Regions from separate parts of the Homo sapiens genome. Here region 2 is linked to region 1. The links come from fine-mapping of genetic effects on gene expression. A gene starts in region 1. The other region holds a variant in brackets. All regions are shown on one strand. Distances are from middle to middle.

Region 1 (10,394 bases):
TATTTATTTTATTGAATGAATGCTAGTTGTTATAATTCTAGGTCAGTGAAGAATTTTACACTTAATGATAACCCTGACCTGCAATGAACATAATCATATTTGGGTGACGGATAAGCTCACTGAGGCAGATAAATTTAGAAATATGAATCCTGGGGCCCTCTCATAGAGTACTACCAAAATCAGCACTCAATGTTATTGATCTGTCCTTGACAGTCTCATCTGGTCAGTGCACAAAACAAATGTGGCCTATTATTTTTATTTTGTTGAGGAGCCAGGGTCCCTTACTGAATGTTATAATGTCATAAATGGATATGCTTATTCATGAAGGTGCCTAGGCAAGAGAAAATGCATAGATAAAATTAATATTATTAATAAAACTAAGAAGGAAAAACACACACCCACCATCCATAAATCCAAATGTGAGTAGACCAGTAGTCTGCTTTTATAAGCTTCATATACTAGTCATAAAATGTGTCCATCTTTGCTAAAACCTGATGGAGGACAATTTAGCTAAAATAAAGAAAAAAAACTTTTTTTAGATATGGAAGTTTCCTTTAACCTAAAAGAAAATATTCTAAAAGGATATTACTGTTCATTCTCATCTCCCCATTTGGTCACCATAAAAATTAAATTCCTAATAGACCAGAGTTTCAAATGGAGAACTTCTTGGTTTGCTGGGTTATGCACCCTGCTGAGACAGGCTGGGAGAATCACCATTGTCTTCGATGATGGAAGATTCTTTGCTCTCCCCACGAGCAAAGCATTCCTTGACACAGAGCCAAAATGATGAAGAAAATAAAGTTGGTCCCATAATAACATTTAGGCTGCAGGAAAGAAGCTCAACAAAAACAAGTTATCCCCTGGTACTCCCAAACTTTGTTTTAATTTCCCACAGTGGCACAGAAAGTCTGGCCACAAGTTACCTATCATCTTAATTTCTCCTTCTTAGAGGGTTTGTGTTTGGTTTTTGTCCTTAATGAGACATATTTGCCAAAGAGGCATTCAAAAGGCATTTTTTACTCTTGCGGAAGAGTAATTAGGTCGGTACCTCTTTCCCTGCCAGCATTAGCCGCTCTAAAGAGAACCCTGCCCAGTATTTAATGCCCAAACACAAGAAGCATCATTTCCACTAATTGGTCTTGAAGTTCCGATGTTCCCAAAGGGTCCCTTTATTTTGCAAGGATCAGAAAGGACATACGTAAAATGTGATATTGTCATCGCTGACTTTTATCTCTCTCATCTGCACTATTACAGTGGTCCTCTCTTATGTTTTTGCAAGCAACATCAACACAACACCAACAAAGGAGGTAAATAAAGGATTTGCATTTTTACAACAGAAGACATCTCCGGGCCAAGTTCAAATGTTGGAATGGAAATCTTTATAAATATGAACATGAACATAAACATATAGCATATATAAAAATTTGATTCCCTTGATGATGTTCAGTGTTCAGTGCATGGGGAAAAAGGAAATGCTGCTTTAGCATGTGGACTGTGAAATGCAGGGCAAGGGGGAGAAAAGAACCATTCATCAAGTAGAAGCAGAAAATACAGCATATACTACTAACCTTGTTTCTTGTTTTGGGATTTTATTTCTTTTTCTTTTCCACAGCCTGAGAAAGCCTTGTGGACAATATATCACATAATCTCATAACAGAAACTAAAGCAAATTATAAAAATGAAGGGTGGGTGTGTGGTAGCAGAATTTTCACACATACTACTTGCTATCCAAAGCCCTGAAAATGGCTTTATTAACTATCAGGAAGTTTCAAATTCTTTGACATAATGACCAGGCTACATCAATGTCCTTAGAAACATGGCCAAACTATCATTAAGAAGAGATTTAACCATTTATATTCAGATTGGCCAAATAAATCAGAGTTGAAGAATAGGCTACGTACTCCTTCCTCTGAGCTCAATTCCCTTTTAGCTATTCTCTTTTTAATTTGTACCTTGAAAATGTAGCTCTAAGCTCTATCATTCCCCAATGTTTTATCCAAGTGATGGACAAGCTCTGGCTGTGGCCTGCTTTGTGTTCTTTTGGGACTGTTTCTCTCTTAAAAGGGCCATTTTCCATTGTGGAAACTAGTGTCAAAGGCTTGAGGTGAATGAAGAGGAGGAGGAGAATGTTAAAGAGACCCTTTCAAAACCAAAATTATATGTTCAAATGAATATGTTTTCTGTACCTCTGCAATATTAACCGTGCAGAAGCTAAACTGCCTGTCAGCATCTATACTGTGTGTTTACTTTTACACTTCATTTAGGTAAGAGCCAGGCTCCCAGACAGAGCAATTTGCTTATTGGTTGCATGTTTTTAGTCTCTGAGCGCCAGCACAAGGATATACTGTTCAGATGCAATGACGCTGACTAAAGAAACTTAAATAACAAACACCTTTTATTCACCTCAGGGTCTCTCACCAGTGTCTATAGACTTTCCTTTCAATCAAAATTGTACACAGAATCCATCTCTTACTAAACTCACATTATCTTTAAAGGCTTCTCCATAAAGTTAATTCAAATCCCTTTCAACCTTTTAAGAAAGGGTTTATTTAAAAAAAAAAGAAAAGAAAATATTTTGTTCTTTCTTTATTTCTGTGTTGCCCCTTGTGGAGGCAAAACACAGGGATAATACTTTTACTCCACTTTCTCTACATATCTTTCCAGGCATCTGACATGCAGCAACAAGGAGAATTAATAACAGTAAATCACATGTGTAGTTGTATCACATGAGCACACACCCCTCTCATCCTGGAAAACTTCACTTCTGGGGATGGGTAGCCTCAAAATAATGCAAGTCAGGGTTATGAAATAGTGTGATGCCATCTCAAACAGAACCTCTTACAACGTCTCTGGAAATGACTACACCCAAAGACAGTGGCACAAATGACAAGAGCATTCAGAGAAGTGATTCAACCTGGTTGAGAGATTCTGAGTGACCCTCAAATGCCACCACAGAAACCACCACCCTTGCCATACTTGAAGACAGAAAAGAGACCATCATTCAGTTGCAGCTGTGTTCATAATGTTTCCATTTATCACACACCCAGTCCAGTCTTGTTTCTGGATATGTGGGTCCTGGGGTTGCTTCTGCACATGGTAGCTATTACATAAATCATCAAAAGCAAACATAATAACATCAGTCGTGAACTTGGTCACTAATCAAATCAGTAGGCAGGGACAAAGAAATACAGAATAGGAATATACAAACCATATGCAAAAAGAAAAAACAAATCACTCATCCTTCCCAATTTCCTAGAATAGGAATAACAACATATTGCAACATAATGGAACACTATACATTGGTGAAAAAAACAATAAACTTTATTGAAGACGTATTTGTTTGCTTTTCCATTTTATGTTCAATAAGCTGCTTAATGGGAGAAACAACCTCACTTAATATTTGTGGGTAACATTACAGCCCCCATTGTTTATATGAGAGATGACTGTTTTTCATGTTTTTCTTAATGAAACATGACATTTATATAAGAAATATATGTATATAAGTAAAATTCTTCCAATAAGTTTTTTTTTTTTTACTTTATAGGCAAAAGGCAATTGTCCTTCCAAAAAGTAAGAGTTTAATATACTGAGATCAAATCACTGATATTTCCATGGTATCTGCTAACACGTATAAAATATGATGTTGAAGAGGGAACTTCCTAATTAATAATATGTCTGATATACTTGTGTACTCCTCCACCTGCCTCCAAATTGCCTTCCACTAAAACAAACCATTAAAAACTTCCCATTCAATGTATACTTTTGTGGAAATGAAATAATCAATTCAATATCTACTTTTCTAGATCTCCCGTCCTCACTGACATGCACAATATAAATGAGTTTTTACTGTTAGAACTTTGAGCACCAATTCATATTCTCATAAAAGAATTTCCATCTACTAATAAGAGCTCTTACTATTCACATTTTTAACAACAATAAACACAAACCCTCTTTGGGTTACTATCAATAATAAAGACGTGCATTGTGGTAAAATTTCCCTAGTTCACAACAGATATTTTCTTCTTGAACATCTGATTTTCAGAAGAACAATCCTGTCCTGAATTCTTTGTAATTTTACAAGTTACTTCTTCTCTTTTCTTGGCGCATGGTTTTAGTTTTCTAGTGTTTATTTATGGAGGATGCATTCCCTTGCGTCTCTATTATTTCGAGTTCCCCGTCTCTGGTTCTAAGGTGCTGCCTGCCTAAAACACACCACTTCACTGAACACCTGGCTTCTATATTCCTCTAAAATACAGATGTACAGTTGCTTTTTCTGGCATCTTGGGCAAGGTCCCACAACACTTTTAGGGAAACCAAGATTGTCTATTTTGATAACTACTTTTGCCAAAATAGTTCATTCTTCTCAAGCCTGGTTGAGGGGGTGGAGGGGACCTTTAGAAGTCATATGGGCATAGCAGGTGGGGGAAAACTGACAAAAGACCAGGGCGAAAATCATCCTCTGTGCCCCTGAAGATCTTAGTTGAAAATGCTCTACTAACATCTCTCACCAGCAAAAAGCCTGGAACACAGTATTTTTCACTTAGAAACTAAGATCACTACCTCTGATTTTGAGAGAGCAGCCCCTGGGCACTACCTGAGCAGGTAAGGGAGACCACTGCTCTAATGCTCATAACAGCTCTGAGATTTAATGAATCACAGACCCATCATCTCTTTCTAGGGCAACGTATTTTATTTTTGAGAAACAAAGTAAAGGAGGCTTCCCTTACAAATGCTGGATTTCTGACAGCTAGTTTTCAGACTTTTCTTTCGCAAGTTGATATCTAGTAACTCAGGATCACTGCCTGAAAATCGCTTCCAAAGGGTTCAAATTTGAATCAATGTAGAGGAGGTGGCACACAGCTGCTTGCTTTCATTAACTCTTACCTCTACCAGAAACCAAGCAGCTATGATGCCCAATCACAATTTCTATGACCACTTTCTTATCTTGTCAACTCTCTGAGAGTTCTGAGTAGCATTTCTCATTTCTTGCTTTTCAGTACCCACCCCTCGAACATACTTCCTCAGTGTACCTCAGCCTCCCATCAAGCAAAAAATCAAAATTCCAGTTTATGGCAAGAGCAGAATAAATGCAGCAGTCTCCTCTTCTCCATCATTTTCTGACTTTTCCCAAGTTATCGTACCAGCACAATGCCTTCTACTCCCAAATCACAGCAAGATATTAATAACCCTTAGTAGAAAGATTCCTTATTAGGTCACACAGAGTCATTATGGCTTAATAGCTGTCACCCTCCCAAGCTAACCTGTGCAACAGGTGTGGAAAGTAAACTTAGAGGCTCACTTGGCAACCCCACAAATAGGGCTTCACAGCTCTCCCCCCAATGCTCCCAATGGCCTCTGGTCCCCAGCATATGAGCCCCTGCCCCTGTAGACCTAGGGAGAAGCCCTTCTCAGCTCAGCTCACCTGTTTGTAGGCATCGAGGAGGAAGCTCTTCCAGACGCAGCGCAGTCCCTCTGAGGTCAGCATGCGCCGCCACTCTCCGCGAGTGGACTTGGAGCGGCTCAACAGCAGCACCACGTGCTTGAGCAGAATGACCGAGTCATAGAGAGCCAGGAAGAGGCAGTTGGAGAAAAAAACTGGCAGAATTTGCAGTGTGATCAGCAAGTCTACGCTGAGGATGCCCATCTTCTCTGCCTCCTGAGTCAGTTCCCTTGTGCGCTCTGGTTCCCCTTCACCCTCTTATTTAAAAGGGGGGTGGTGATAAAGGGGGTGGGGGAGGTAAGGGGGAAGGTTGGGGGTTGGGGGAGAAGGGGAAAAAAAACTAAATTAAAAGGAAGCCCAAGTTGTCTCCTCTTTCAAAGAAGCAGAAATGGCAAGACTAAGTCCAGTCTCTCCAGCCCAGCAGTTGGAGTGTGCCCATCAATTCATTCAATTCGGAGCTGCTGCCTTTTTTTTTTTTTTTTTTTTTTTTTCAGGATTTAAGATGTTAAAAAAAAAAAAAAAAAAAAAAAAAAAAAGCTGGCGTACTCGTCCCTAATCCAGTTACCTCTGTCAGAGTCCGTTAAAGACAGGCAGTTCTACTTTCATTTCCAAGCACCTATGAGACTGTGGCAGAGATTTTAAAATTTTCTTTAGCCTTTCATTGTCTCTATGCTCTTTAAACGTAGCCTGTTTCTTTCTTGAATTGCCAGAGTTTTTTTTTTTTTTAAATGTGCTTTAAGGGTAGTTTTTTTTTTTTCTTTCTTTACTCCGTTTTACACACACTTTCTGTGCTTCTCTTTCTCCCAGTCTCACTCTCTCCCTTCCCCAGGAGCGACTGACTCCTCTTTTTTCTCACTCTCTGTCTTTCCCTTCTTGCTATCTGTCTGTGGTGCAAAGTGCCTCTCTCTGCAGCCCAGTGAGTCTCCCTGACGCCTTTTATACATTCCCTGGCTAATTGCTGCAATAGAGAAGTGAAAGCCTAATCTTGGTAAAGATCTTGACGTCATTGAGAAAGAGGGCTTTACTTTGGCCAGGATTGCAGTGAATAGAAAAGCAAAACTCGACAACTTTTTTTTTTTAGAAGGGGTTGGGGAGAGACAGTGGAATTTTGCTTTGTGATTTAAAGAGAGAAAAAAACTAATACCCTTGACAGCCTTCAGGAAATGCTTCCAAACTTTGGGAAAAGTAATTTAATATAATGTGCAGATTGATATGGCCAACACTCTCTCTTCTGATTATCATTATCATTAATTTATGAGGGGTTTTGGAAAGAAAGGATCCTGGAAGGCAGGTAGAAAAAAGGAAGAGTTATCACAGGCGGTCTTTGCTCTGTTTCTTGGAAAATATGAACATTTATATACAATCTTTATACCTTTATACCATGACTCCAACCCTTTGTAAGATCTGTGACCTAGGTCCTTTAAATTTTTTTGAGTCATTATCTTATTTAAGAAAATGCAAAATGAGTTGTAGGTGGAAAACTTGTAAACTATTTGAGTACCATCCCAGCATTTCTTTAAAGCTTCTTGCAGAAACTTGAATACAGGTTTCTTTTTAGTTTTACCCAAGCTTCTAATGAAAAAAAAAAAAAAAATCCAAGTTCCTCCAGACAGGGAAGGAGCTAGGCGACATTCTTTTAGCTTCATTTTGCAGATAAAATTAAAACTTTCCATTGAATAGCATTAAGAAGCCATAAGGCTGAGAAATTATTAATGAAAGCTCTTTAAATTTGGTGTTTCACCTGCTTCTGTTAGCATAACCCCTAAGAGACCTGATACTTTAAGGAATCTTCCTTTTTGTTTGAAAAAAATTTTAATTAAATGTATGGGAAGTTAAGAGCCGACTGAATTGGTTCAAGGTGCCACATTGACCATTGTTCATTGGCTTGCCTCTCCCATGAGTCTTTAGGACAGGTATTTAGGCAGACAATGCTTTGGCAGAATGGCATGACCCCCACTTTATTCTACTTTTTCATCCTGTGTTACCTAATAGATCACTGAGTTTTCTCAGTGATAGATACTGAGTTTTAGATACTGGGTAATAGATAGCTGAGTTTTCTATGTAGCCAGAGCTTAGGCATAAGCTAAGCAGTAGGTGCAAGCTTGTGGTTAGCGTATTGCGTATTTTTTCCATGTGGCTAAAACCTTCATGATCACAGAAATAATTTAAAAGCCTAGACAAGAGTCATTAATTTGTCGTCCTGTTAGCTGAATTCTGCATATTAATGCATTTTGTTTGGTTGGCAGGTTGCTTTTTTGCCTTTAAAAAAACAATAATCAAAAAAGAATGCCTTTAGGTTCCGTGAGAGCAGGGATTCTTGTCCACTTTGTTCACTGCTACCTCCCCAACACCTAGAACCATGCTTGGCGCACAGTTGGCTCATTGAGGACGTCCTGAATGAATGAATGAACAGGGCATGTAGAGGGCCTCTGCATTGCTCTACACTAGGGGGCACCATTCACATACAATATGATGTGAATGGGGGTGCCCTGGAATTGTAAAACGTGGTGGCCTTGTGCAATGCCCTCTCTTGTGACACAACCCTCAGCATTCCCTACAAATTCTTTCATTTTTTTCATTAGTTTGGCTCCTAATGAGTTTTGAATTTGCATCTCATGGACGAAATTGTTAAAAGACTTCAAAGCTTAGAAAAATAATATAAACCACATAGAAAAATTACACCTTCCCTATGACTAGCATACAATGTTAGCAAAATAATATTACTAATATATGCAATGTACATTTACTGCATGTATCTTCTCAAACTACTCAATGTCCTTATGGGAAAAAAGAAAGAACAAAGGCAGGGAGTTGATAGCACAGTATTTTAACTGGTGGAGATGTGAAAGCTATATTGCCATAGTTCCCACCAACAATGGCAGAAGGAGGTGTAGACTCAGGAAATGCTGCTTCCACTCAATTGCCCAGGCCTTAGAATCTCTCCCCTTCTCAGACCTTCATTCTACCTTGATTGAATTAAACCAGTGCTCCCCTGCAGTGGAGACTTCAGCAGCTTTAAACCAATTCTCTCTCACTTGCTTTTGCTCTGAAGGAGGAAAGTATGTTTGTAAATGGCAAGCTAAGGAGAGGGATTGATAGAAAATCAGAAAAACCTTTCTTTTAAATGTGAAGTTCAAAGCATATCCAGACTTTAAGTGGTTATAAGTTAGAATTAGGACTCTGTTGGGGGCTTTTGTTTCTTTTTATTTATTTATTTATTGAGGTTAGAAGTGTTTGAAGGGAATTTTTTTTTAAATAGGAGAACAAAAAGATACACAGCCAATCTGGTTATGTCATTTCTCAGATTTCTTCAATCATTTTTCTAAATGAACGATAAACACATCACAAAACTGAGGGCCATTCCTCTAGCAGATAGACAATCTGTCCATCCAAGAAATTACATTTCTCCAAAGCTATTTCTTTTTTTATGCATGGTGCACAATTGCTCATTCCAGTTATTAAGAATATTTACCACATTGATTTTCAAGTAATTTTATACTCATTAAGTAACAGAATAATCCTAAGGTGACAGAGTATGACTTTTCCCATCATATAGATGAGAGAAAGCAGATTACCAAAATTAGGGAGTCCAAGCGGGTGTTGGGATATTTTCCCTAACTCTAAATAAGCCTCACTTTTTTTCTTTAATGTCTGTTATGGGTCCTGGTCATTACTATGAGAACCAAAACCCTTGTTGAAAGTGGTTTGCTAGTAATTTAATCTTCAAAATGGCAAAGGCTGTGAGGACTTCACATCTGTTTAAGACTGTCCCGACTCAGGCTCCTTGTTTAGATTTCATATGTTCTTTCAAAGGGCTTGGCTATCTTCTTGGTCATGTATGTGTTCTTAGCAATCAACATGTAATGAGTTAAATGCAAACCAACGAGGGGCATGTCGGTTGCATTTCCCCATACGATATTCCACACGGGTTTTAAATTCCAAAGAGAAGCAGCCTAGGGCAAAATGCTTTGGGCTTTTTATGAAAAAACCTTTGCAAAATTGTTTAACTTTTTTATATTCCCATAGTAAAAGAGCATCATGTCCTACTGTTGCCTCTTTCTGGTTGGAAAATAACAAGCATATGAGTCACAAGACTTTCTTTAGTCCTCTTCTTGACTCTAAAATTGAGATTGAGAAAATAAAGTTGGATAATCTGAAAGCAGACTTGGAAATTTTAAGCACAACAGTTGCCATTACTATTTCCTTATTCTTATTTGAAAGAGCAGAAGAGCATCCAGACAGTTCTGTCATGTTAACAACTCATACCATGGACTTTCAAGCTGCCTTTGTTTCGTGGAATTTTATTCTTTCTAATTCCAGTGATTTGTCAAGTGCATAATTTAAAAAATGGCATTTCATTTTTACTTTCTTAAAAACATGTCAAATAAACACATTATAAATCCAAAAATGTCTGGAAACAGCAGGCATGCTGATTTTGGATTTGAGAATATGGTTGCCATACATAACGCCTAAAACAGCGCCGCTCTTATCAGAGCAAGGAATCACAAACTGTATAACCTACTGCCTCCAGTGACTCTGCCTGACAGGGAGTTATGACGAACGGCTTACACCACAACTACTGAATCACTCAAAATTCCCTGTGGGCCCATCCATTCCACAAACACAGCCGTGTTCTCTGCCTTGTGATGAAAGGAGAAGCTCAATGGATAAAATACACAATCCCAGAGTAAACTCTGACACACCTTGAGCAAAGCAACTTGGGGGCGGGAGGGCAGGCTGACGCCTTGGGAGGTATGAGCATTCTCTCCCAGCAGCCCTCTCCGTAGGTTCCTCTGCAGTGCTGGCAGACAGCACCCATCCGAGTTGTTAATGCATTCTTCCCTCAGGAACTGTTGCTTCTCTTTTTTTTCCAGGCTACCTACTGGTAAGACAGAGGGGGAGAAAAAGACAAAGGAAATAAAAAGGAGAGGGAAAGCAAAAATGAAGAGAAAAA
Region 2 (10,394 bases), 80 kb after region 1:
CCCTCTCCCTCTCCCTCTCCCTCTCCCTCTCCATCTCCCTCTCCCCACGGTCTCCCTCTCCCTCTCTTTCCACGGTCTCCCTCTGATGCCAAGCCGAAGCTGGACTGTACTGCTGCCATCTCGGCTCACTGCAACCTCCCTGCCTGATTCTCCTGCCTCAGCCTGCTGAGTGCCTGCGATTGCAGGCGAGTGCCGCCATGCCTGACTGGTTTTCGTATTTTTTTGGTGGAGACGGGGTTTCGCTGTGTTGGCCGGGCTGGTCTCCAGCTCCTAACCGCGAGTGATCCGCCAGCCTCGGCCTCCCGAGGTGCCGGGATTGCAGACGGAGTCTCGTTCACTCAGTGCTCAATGGTGCCCAGGCTGGAGTGCAGTGGCGTGATCTCGGCTGGCTACAACCTCCACCTCCCAGCCGCCTGCCTTGGCCTCCCAAAGTGCCGAGATTGCAGCCTCTGCCCGGCCGCCACCCTGTCTGGGAAGTGAGGAGCATCTCTGCCTGGCCGCCCATCGTCTGGGATGTGAGGAGTCCCTCTGCCCGGCTGTCCAGTCTGGGAAGTGAGGAGCCCTCTTCCCGGCTGCCATCCCGTCTAGGAAGCGAGGAGAGTCTCTGCCCGGCCGCCCATCGTCTGGGATGTGAGGAGCCCCTCTGCCTGGCTGCCCAGTCTGGGAAGTGAGGAGCGCCTCTTCCCGGCCGCCATCCCATCTAGGAAGTGAGGAGCGTCTCTGCCCGGCCGCCCATCATCTGAGATGTGGGGAGCGCCTCTGCCCTGCCACCCCGTCTGGGATGTGAGGAGCGCCTCTGCCAGGCTGCCCCGTCTGAGAAGTGAGGAGCCCCTCCGCCCGGCAGCCGCCCCATCTGAGAAGTGAGGAGCCCCTCCGCCCGGCAGCCGCCCCATCTGGGAAGTGAGGAGCATCTCCGCCTGGCAGCCGCCCCGTCCGGCAGGGAGGTGGGGGGCGTCAGTCCCCGCCCAGCCAGCTGCCCCGTCCGGGAGGGAGGTGGGGGGGTCAGCCCCCGCCCAGCCAGCTGCCCCGTCCGGGAGGGAGGTAGGGGGTGCCTTAGCCCGGCCAGCCGCCCCGTCTGGGAGGTGGGGGGGCGCCTCTGCCCAGCCGTCCCTTCTGGGAAGTGAGGAGCCCCTCTGCCCGGCCACCAACCCGTCTGGGAGGTGTACCCAACAGCTCATTGAGAACGGGCCATGATGACAATGGCGGTTTTGTGGAATAGAAAAGGGCGAAAGGTGGGGAAAAGATTGAGAAATCGGATGGTTGCTGTGTCTGTGTAGAAAGAAGTAGACATGGGAGACTTTTCATTTTGTTCTATACTAAGAAAAATTCTTCTGCCTTGGGATCCTGTTGATCTATGACCTTACCCCCAACCCTGTGCTCTCTGAAACATGTGCTGTGTCCACTCAGGGTTAAATGGATTAAGGGCGGTGCAAGATGTGCTTTGTTAAACAGATGCTTGAAGGCAGCATGCTCGTTAAGAGTCATCACCACTCCCTAATCTCAAGTACCCAGCGACACAAACACTGCGGAAGGCCGCAGGGTCCTCTGCCTAGGAAAACCAGAGACCTTTGTTCACTTGTTTATCTGCTGACCTTCCCTCCACTATTGTCCTATGACCCTGCCAAATCCCCCTCTGCGAGAAACACCCAAGAATGATCAATAAAAAAAAAAAAAAAAAAGAAAAAAAATACAAAACTTAGCTGGGCGTGGTGGCGCATGCCTGTAATCCCAGCTACTCAGGAGGCTGAGGCAGGAGAATCTCTTGAACTAGGGAGTCAGAGGTTGTAGTGAGCCGAGATCGCGCCACTGCACTCCAGCCTTTGCAACAGAGCAAGACTCCGTCTCAAAAAACCAAACCAAAACAAAAAAATTAGAAAACACAACCAAATTGGCCAAAATCCTGTGTAAATAATGTATACCTTCATACTATTATTTAAGATAACTTAGAATGTTCCTTGCTCTCAAGGGTCTCCCTTCCTTACTTCCAACATGTAATTTATTCTACATAGACTATTTTTAAACTCAAATATTCCTGAAAAAGAGTAACCTATTTAAAAAAAAGCATCTTGAGATGGTTTACATTTACTGCTTTCCTTTACAACAAGAGAGGCCTTAAGAGGAAGGGAAAGAAAACATTTCTCTGTTTCTACTACTTTGTGTCATTTAATGCTCAAACCAGGTTAATAAAGTAGGACTGGTTATTTTCCTCTTGAATATGAGGAAACAGAGACAGGTTAAGCAACTGAGACCAGATGAACAACTTGTATGTGGGAAACTGGGTTTTGTTTTCAGGAATAATGCTTTCCTACTATACCATGCTGCCTACCAGGAAGAGACATAATTCATGAAAGAAGGAAAAGAAAGGTAATACGAAAGAACAACTAACTCTATTAACTTCCTAATTTTGTTCAAAACTAGCCTGGGCTATCAGTGTAACTGATCTCTTTCACTGGAAATTGTTCTCGGGTGTGAAATGGCTGATGTAAAACATATCAAATCTAATTTAAATATTTAATCTATATTGAACTGTCCCTACCAAAAAAAACATATATACTTACAGAAAAAAAAAAGCAACTGAATCCTTTTGTAACTGTACAACTATTATGGGAAAAGTGCCTAATTGATTCATCTGAAGAAATCCTCTGCCTCTAGCCATTATGCCCGCAGCACCTCCTACGGATGGGCTCTTTCCTATGAACAAGAGGAAAACAATACCCAGGCTTACGTTTCCTAAGTCATTTCAGTGTTTCAAATTCTTGCTGTTAGTAATTTCTTGTGCAGGCATTAAAAAAATTCATCTTGCTGGTCACTAGGAATGATTTTCAGAGTAGGGAGAGAGTAACTGGCCACTATCCTTCAAATACTAGAAGATTCTCATTGAGCTTTCTTTCCCCAGGTGAAATAATTCTTTCATCCTATCTCCTAAAATAACCAGAATTTTCTTAGCATTTAGTAAGAAATGTCAGAAAGCAACAATTCATCTGAAACTATTTAGTATCAGCTCAGATTCATAATTGTCAAATAGATTTGCCAATATCAAACATAAACATAAAATTGGGTTTCTGAGTTTAGTGCAAATTAAGCTAAAATAACCCAAAGTGATATTTATTAAAATAGGAGAAGATGTAGCTATGTTACTCAGATTTTAAAACATATCTTATCATAGTATTTTAATTTTCTGGACTCACTTATAGAAAGAGAGATACAGATAAAGATAGAGATAGGGAGAGCTAGAGGAAAAATAGAAAGGTGTAGATCATAAATTCAGGCTATTTCTGAAGAAAATATAAAACAGCTGCTAAAATTAGTATAAGTAGCTATCACATAAAATATTCACGTCACTTATTTTATTGTGTTTTGGAGGTTACCTCATTTTTAACAGCTTTACTGATATATAATTTGCATACCATATAGTTCACCTGTTTAAAGTATATAATTTAATGGATTTTAGTATATTTATAGAGTTGTGCAATCATCACCATTAGCTAATTTTAGAACATTTTCATCACTCCATAAAGAAACCGCATGCCCTTTAGCAATCACTGTCTGTTTCCTCCCTTACTCCTCCATTCATTCCTAGGCAACACTGATCTACTTTCTGTCTCTGTAGATTAGCTTATTCTGAACATTTCTTATAAACGAAATCATGCACTAGTTGGTCTTTTGTGACTGACTTCTTTTACCTAGTGCACGGTTTTTGAGGTTCATTCATATTGTGGCAAATAACAGTATATTATTCGTTTTTATTGTAGAATAATATTCCCTTATATGGCTACACCACATTTTATTTTTCCACTCATCAAGTGATAAGCATTTTGGTTGTTACCACTTTTTTGGCTATTACAAATAATGCTGCTATTTATGTTTGTATATAGTTCTTTGTGTGAACATAAGCTCCCATTTTTCTTGGGTAGATATCTAGGAGTGGAATTGCTGGGTCATATGGTAACTCTATTCTTAACCTTTTGAGGAACTGCTAAACCATTTTCTAAAATGGCTTCGACTTTTATAACACCGTCACAATGTACAAGAGTTCCAGTTTCTCAAATTTTCACTAACAATTGTGTCTGTTTTTATTATAGCCATTCAGTTGATGTGAAGTGGTATCTCACTGGGGTTCTGACTTGCATTTCAGTAATGACTAATGATTTTGAGCATTACTTTGTGTGTTTATCATTTTTATATTTCTCTGGAGAACTGCCTATTCAAATGCTTTGCCCATTTTTAAATTGGTTTGCTTGTTCTATTATTGTAAGAATTCATATATTCTAGATTCAAGTCCCTTATCAGATACATGATGGGCAAATATTTCCTTTTATAGTGTGGGTTGTCTTTTCACCTTCTTGATGGTGCTCTTTGAAGCATAAAAGTCTTAATTTTGATGTTCAATTTACCAATTTTCTATTTTATCACCCATGCTTTGATTTCATTCCTAAGAAATCACTGCCTAACGCAGAGATTTACTTTTATTTTAGTTGTAGGACTTACATTTAGGTCTGCAATCACTACTGTGAGTTCATTTTTGTGTATGACATTATGTAGGACCCTAAATTCATCTTTTTGCAAATGGATAACCAGTTGTACCAGCACCATTTCTTGAAGAGTATTCTTTCCCCCATTGAATTGACTCGCCCCTTTGCCAAAAATCAATTAACCAAAAATACTAGATTAATTTCTATATTATTAATTTTATTCCACTGATCTATGTATTTATCCTGTGTCAGTACCACACTGGCTTGATTATTGTAACTTACTATAGCAGGTTTTCAAATTGGAAGTATAAGTCCTCCAAGTTCATATACCTTTTTCATGATTGTCTTGGCTAGTCTGATCCCCTTGAATTTCCATATGAATTTTAAGATCAGGTTGTCAATTTCTCCAAAAAACAAATAACTAGATGGGATTTTGTTAGGGATTGCATTGAATCTGTAAGAGGTTAACTCTTTGATATCTTTTATTAGATATAAACTATCATGGTTATAATAAATGGCTAATTATTTTGAATTTGATAAAAAGTTAAAGAGATATGGTTGTACTTTATAAGTAGTTGGCAGCAATAACACAGCAATTTCAAAAACATTACAACAAGGTTACATTCAGTGTTTGTGATCATTTTAACTTTAATATATTAAAAATTGCTTGAGATAAGACCTTCAAAAATCAAAAAACCTATGGCCATTAAAGGTCTTAAAATTGGTCTGGAATCAACTGTAAAGGAATCACATAAATTCTCAACTCTATAGAATGAAATAAAGCCTTGTATGTGTTTCATTGAAATGTAAACAAGTCACACGATACCTTTGTTGTGGTCTGTTACTCAACAATATAGAAGTCAAGTAATATCAGATTA[T/C]ACAATAGTCTAAGAAAAACCACTTCCCTCTTTGACCTAGTTTCAAAAGCATTTTCTCTTGGCTTTGAAGATGAATAAATATGCTTGTTAAAGTATTAGGTCAGGCCATCCACTCTTAGTAATGGGTTCTATTAATTATCCTTTAGTCTGTGTTAAAGCAATTTTTAAATTTTAGTTGGAAAGAAGATGCTTTATTGTATAAGCCTTTTAATTTCTCATTTACTTACTAAATGATTATATATTGATTGCCCAGGGGATCTTTCAGTATCTTTAGCCTTTGATTATCCTTTTTAATATGAACAGTAACTTTACAGATAATCCCACAGCTAAACAAATATCATGCATTGAGATGCTTGAAAATAATTTTTTGTAGCCCCCCTGGTTATTTCATAAAGTTTAAAGACTGGAATGACCATTTTCTTCAATGAAGGCTTTTCAAAAAAATAAGCTATTATTATCCATTACATTTTTAAAGCACCATCATATTTATTATTTTAGCCAGTTATAGAAGATAAATTTTAAAATTTTTGCCTTGTAACAGCTAAATGCAAAGTGTTAGCCAGGATCCTTAGTTCCATTAAGACAGAAAATATTGGCGGAGATATTGTGATTACTTTATTTTCAAATTGGTTGGATGATCCTAGCTCCAGATGCACTGGAACTGTGAAGCTGACTGGAGGAAATTAGTAATTTCATGTTCTTTGTCCAGAAAATTGTTCAGTGGTTCCTGAACATCTTAGTACTTGAACTATATCTTAAGTTGATGTGCTAATTGAATAACAAAAATTCTAAGATAAGAATACATTTGCAAATATAGCATACCCCTACTGCTATTTTGTAAAATTTATAACTGGTTTTAGAAATGGTTAACTTATCAGTATCTAAAAGATTATGCCTAAAGAAACTGGCAAGTTGTTTATCCTCTCAGTAGCTTAGTAATGAATCATTTTTTTAATTGAGTTTTATATACGAGGCAGTCGATAATGCTAGTATGAATATCCAAATCATATGTAAACTTATCAGATTATTCACAACTAAAATAAAAATACCAGAAAACTTCATTGATTATAAAAAATTACTTTCTTATGAAAGAGAGTAAATAAACATTTATTAGCGTGTATCATTCTTTTGATATATCGTAGAATGAATGCTGTTTTACAAAATATTTAGCTTAGAGGAGTATTACTTCATTAAATTCAACAAAATATATCTTTAGCTTAAATAGTCAGTGATAATTTCTACAGTAATCTTTCAACCTGTTTCCCTCCCACTACTGTTACCTCTTTTTGTGAGTCTTTCACAACCTTATGAGTAAAGGGATGAGATGAGAACACCTATGTTTTAGAGAAGTTATGTAAGTTAATTGAAGTCACACTGCAAACAATGACAAATCCTTGATTCAAATTCAAATAGATCTAACTTAAAAATTACATGAATTTTTTTATTATACCATTACACTACAATTTTCTCTATAGCCAGTAGCAAAAGTGATAGTGGCTACTATCACTGCCACCATCACTACAATCTTGCCTCCTTATTTCTTGAGCTATACATCTAAAGCCTCCCATCAATGTAGCATGCATGTTCTAGGGCAATTTAAAGTAGAATTAGGGCTCCTAGGGGCCAGACCCTAACTTGAAAGTGACTTCAGACCTGTATATAAAAAAGCAATGGATGAGAATGTCTGCTCTGTGCAATAAAAGCCTCTGAGAAACAGGAATAAATCCAAGTAAAATGAACAGGTAAAGACGGTGTAACCCAAATGTTTTCAAATGTACCAGCTTTGTGGTCCCTTTGTATCAAAGGTACCTCTGCATCTTATAACTTTTTTCTCATAATTTTTTTCTTATGTCTTAGTTCATTCAGACTGCTGTGACAAAAATTCCTAGTCTTGGTGGTGTATAAAAACAGAAATTTATTTCTCACAGTTCTGCAGGCTGAAAAATGCAAGATCGAGGCATTGGCAGATTAGGTGTCTGGTGAGGGCCTGCTTCCTGGTTCATAGATGGTGCCTTCTCACTGAGTTCTCATATGGTAAAAGGAACATAGGAACTCTCTAGGGTCTCTTTTTTAGGGGCACTAGTTCCATTCATGAAGGTTCTGCCCACATAACCTAATCACCTCCCAAAAACCCCACCTCCTGACACCATCATATTGGGAGTTAGCCTTCAACATATGAATTTGGGGAAGACACAAAAATACAATCTATGGCACTAAACACTCAATGCACATTTATGAGCAGTTCAGATTTTACTGAAGATTCGGTAGGGAAGATGGAGGAAGAGATTTAAATTGTATATTGCACCAAAACCTTTAAATGCTCCCATTATTTGTCTTCTTTTCCAAATCACTATTAGGATTTTTCCTCTTATCGTCTTTTACCACATGCTACTCAATCTTGTCAATTCTTTTATTTTATCTTCCTAATTTTCCCAGAATCTTCATATACCTCTCCCCTTTAAATTGCTGAAGGTTTCAGCTCTGCCTCAAGAACCACTCCTAAATTGTACCTCAAACTTCATCATACCCACAACAATAAAAATCTTTTAATTTATATTATCCAACCTCCATAAGAGGCAATGAGAGGTTATAGTATTTTTTTTTTTTTCGAGATGTAGTCTCACTCTGTCACCCAGGCTGGAGGGCAGTGGCGCAATCTCGGCTTACTGCAACCTCCGCCTCCTGGGTTCAAGTGATTCTCCTGCCTCAGCCTCCCAATTAGCTGGGACTACAGGCACGTGCCACCACGCCCGGCTAATTTTTTTGTATTTCTAGTAGAGGCAGGGTTTCACCGTGTTAGCGACGATGGTCTCAGTCTCCTTGACCTTGTGATCCTCCCACCTCGGCCTCCCAAAGTGCTGGGATTATAGGCATGAGCCACCACGAATAACCTTAGCTATTCCTAATCACTGTGCATGAACATGATGTGAACCAACATTATTCCCTATACATGCTATGCCTGTCTCCATGTTAACTTTGGCTGCCTTCACCTCAGTCGGTCTCTCCCCCTCACTTTTTAAATTCTAAACCTCAAGTCTAACTTGACCAAAACTTAGAATAGACTTTGCTTCCAAAAATGTTTTTCAATAACAATCAGTAGAGCCCTATTTATTTAGCATTTCTTATGTACTGAGCAGTACAGTGAATACTTTAGAAATAATCACATTTAAACCTCCAAACAGGTCTGTGAAATGAATACTATTTTTACATCTGTCAATTGGCTTTTTCCTTGTCTTGAATTAAGACTCATATTGGCACTCATATCTTCTGGTGGGAAAGAGAGAGTGTGCTCACTAAGCAGCCAGGAACATGTTGCTGAACAACAGAAGAGATGTAGGTAACAATTACTCAAGGCCGACCTTGATCTCATATCTAAATAGTTTAACGAGACAAAGAAAGTATCATTGCGCCATATTTAAATTTAATTCGCCGAGGTTTATGCAGTGCCTAGTAACTTCTGCAATGGTGTTACCTGCATAATTATTCCCGATCTTCATAGCAACTCGGTCTGAGAAACAAATATTGTTATGATCCCATTTTTACAGACAAGGAAAGGAGATGTGGAGAAACTAACCAAAAAACCTGCTCCAAATGTCAGATGTAAGAGGGAAATCTTTATTATATTCCTCCATGCATACTTCACACACTTTGAAGTATGTGAATATATATTCTGACATATATATTGACATATATGTCATGTCATATGACATATATAGACATGCTGACATATATATTGACATATATGAAGCATGACAATATATATGCTGCATATGCAAACAGTACCACATGTGTATACATGTGTAATTGTGTGTGTCCCAAAGAAATGACGGCAACTGGCTTCTGAGGCTGATTTACTTGATACAGGCTGATTTACTGAGGCTGATTTACTTGATACAGAGACTAATAGTAGCATAACAGTTGCCCCTTCAAAAAGTAAAAAAATCTGGTACAGTGAATTGAGCCAGAAATTTATAATCACAAAATGAAAAATATACTTAACTTCATCATCAAAACTCATATTTTTAGATATAAGCTAGCATTAGTTATGATTGGATTTTGTGTTATTTCAAAAAGTACAATTTTATTTTGATTTGTATATGGGTGAGTATTGAGACTGTGAGTACCACAATCTTTTCAGAGATAAGGAACTCTAACATTTTTAACAGAGACCTATTAATATTGACTACACCTCCAAGGTATATGGCAATGAGAAAAGAAAAATAGGGTGGTAGGTAGTTAGGGAAAAAATGTAAGTAAAGAACAATCAGAATGGTTTGGAAAATTTATGCCAAGATAACATAACATATATTATATAGTTAGACATGTAGATATAGAACCAAGTAAATATGAACTACAAAGCACAGATCATATTTAAGATACAAAAGAACTTTTAATATGTGAGTGATGACAAGTATAACAATAGCTAACTTTTTAAAAAAACATACAATATGCAAAGAACTATATATGCATCATCTCATTTAATCCTTACATTTCTCCGTAAGTTATTATTATTATCATCTGCGTTTTAGAGATGAGAAACTAAGACTTAGGGAGGTTATAAGAATAGCCCAAAGTCACCTAGCTTGTAAGTGGTGTGGGCAGGATTTCCAAAGTATGGCCACCAGTAACAGCATTCTCTCAGACAGAAAGGAAAGTTGAGGGTGGAAGAAAGATTAAACATGAAGTTGCCAATTCGAATGATTTTACAAAGCAAATACATTAGTGTAATTTCAAGCTAAAAAGCTTTAAAGGCCGGGCACAGTGGCTCATGCCTGTAATCTTACCACTTTCAGAGGCCGAGGCGGGGGATCACCCAAGGTCAGGTGTTCGAGACCAGCCTGACCAACATTGAGAAACCCCGTTGCTACTAAAAATACAAAATTAGCCAGGCGTGGTGGCACATGCCTGTAATCCCGCCTACTCAGGAGGCTGAGGCACGAGACTCTCTTGAATCTGGGAGGCGGAGGTTGTGGTGAGCTGAGATTACACCATTGCACCCCAGCCTGGGCAACAAGGGCAAAACTCTGTCTCGAAAAAAAAAAAA

Which allele goes with the higher level. Positions count from the first base shown, and alleles are read on the strand shown. Sizes are in standard deviations (SD) of each study's normalised expression.
For the expression in sun-exposed skin of the gene that starts at base 5,676 in region 1, allele C in region 2 goes with a higher level than allele T (moderate effect, 0.55 SD a copy in GTEx).

Evidence for each region. PIP is the estimated chance that this variant, and not a neighbour inherited with it, causes the effect.
Region 2: its variant is fine-mapped to the expression of DIO2 in sun-exposed skin (GTEx, PIP 0.94).

What each region holds. Positions count from the first base shown.
Region 1 is chr14:80,205,829-80,216,222 of GRCh38, forward strand. DIO2 (iodothyronine deiodinase 2) reads right to left here and starts at 5,676. Exons shown (of 2, transcript NM_013989.5): 1 at 5,423-5,676. The coding sequence starts at 5,644. It overlaps DIO2-AS1 (DIO2 antisense RNA 1), which reads left to right and starts at 5,591. Exons shown (of 9, transcript NR_038355.1): 1 at 5,591-5,660.
Region 2 is chr14:80,285,956-80,296,349 of GRCh38, forward strand. All of the region lies in intron 2 of DIO2-AS1 (DIO2 antisense RNA 1), which reads left to right. Among named protein-coding and RNA genes, the nearest start is that of DIO2, 80 kb to the left of the region's middle. The variant T/C (reference allele first, on the strand shown) is at 5,351.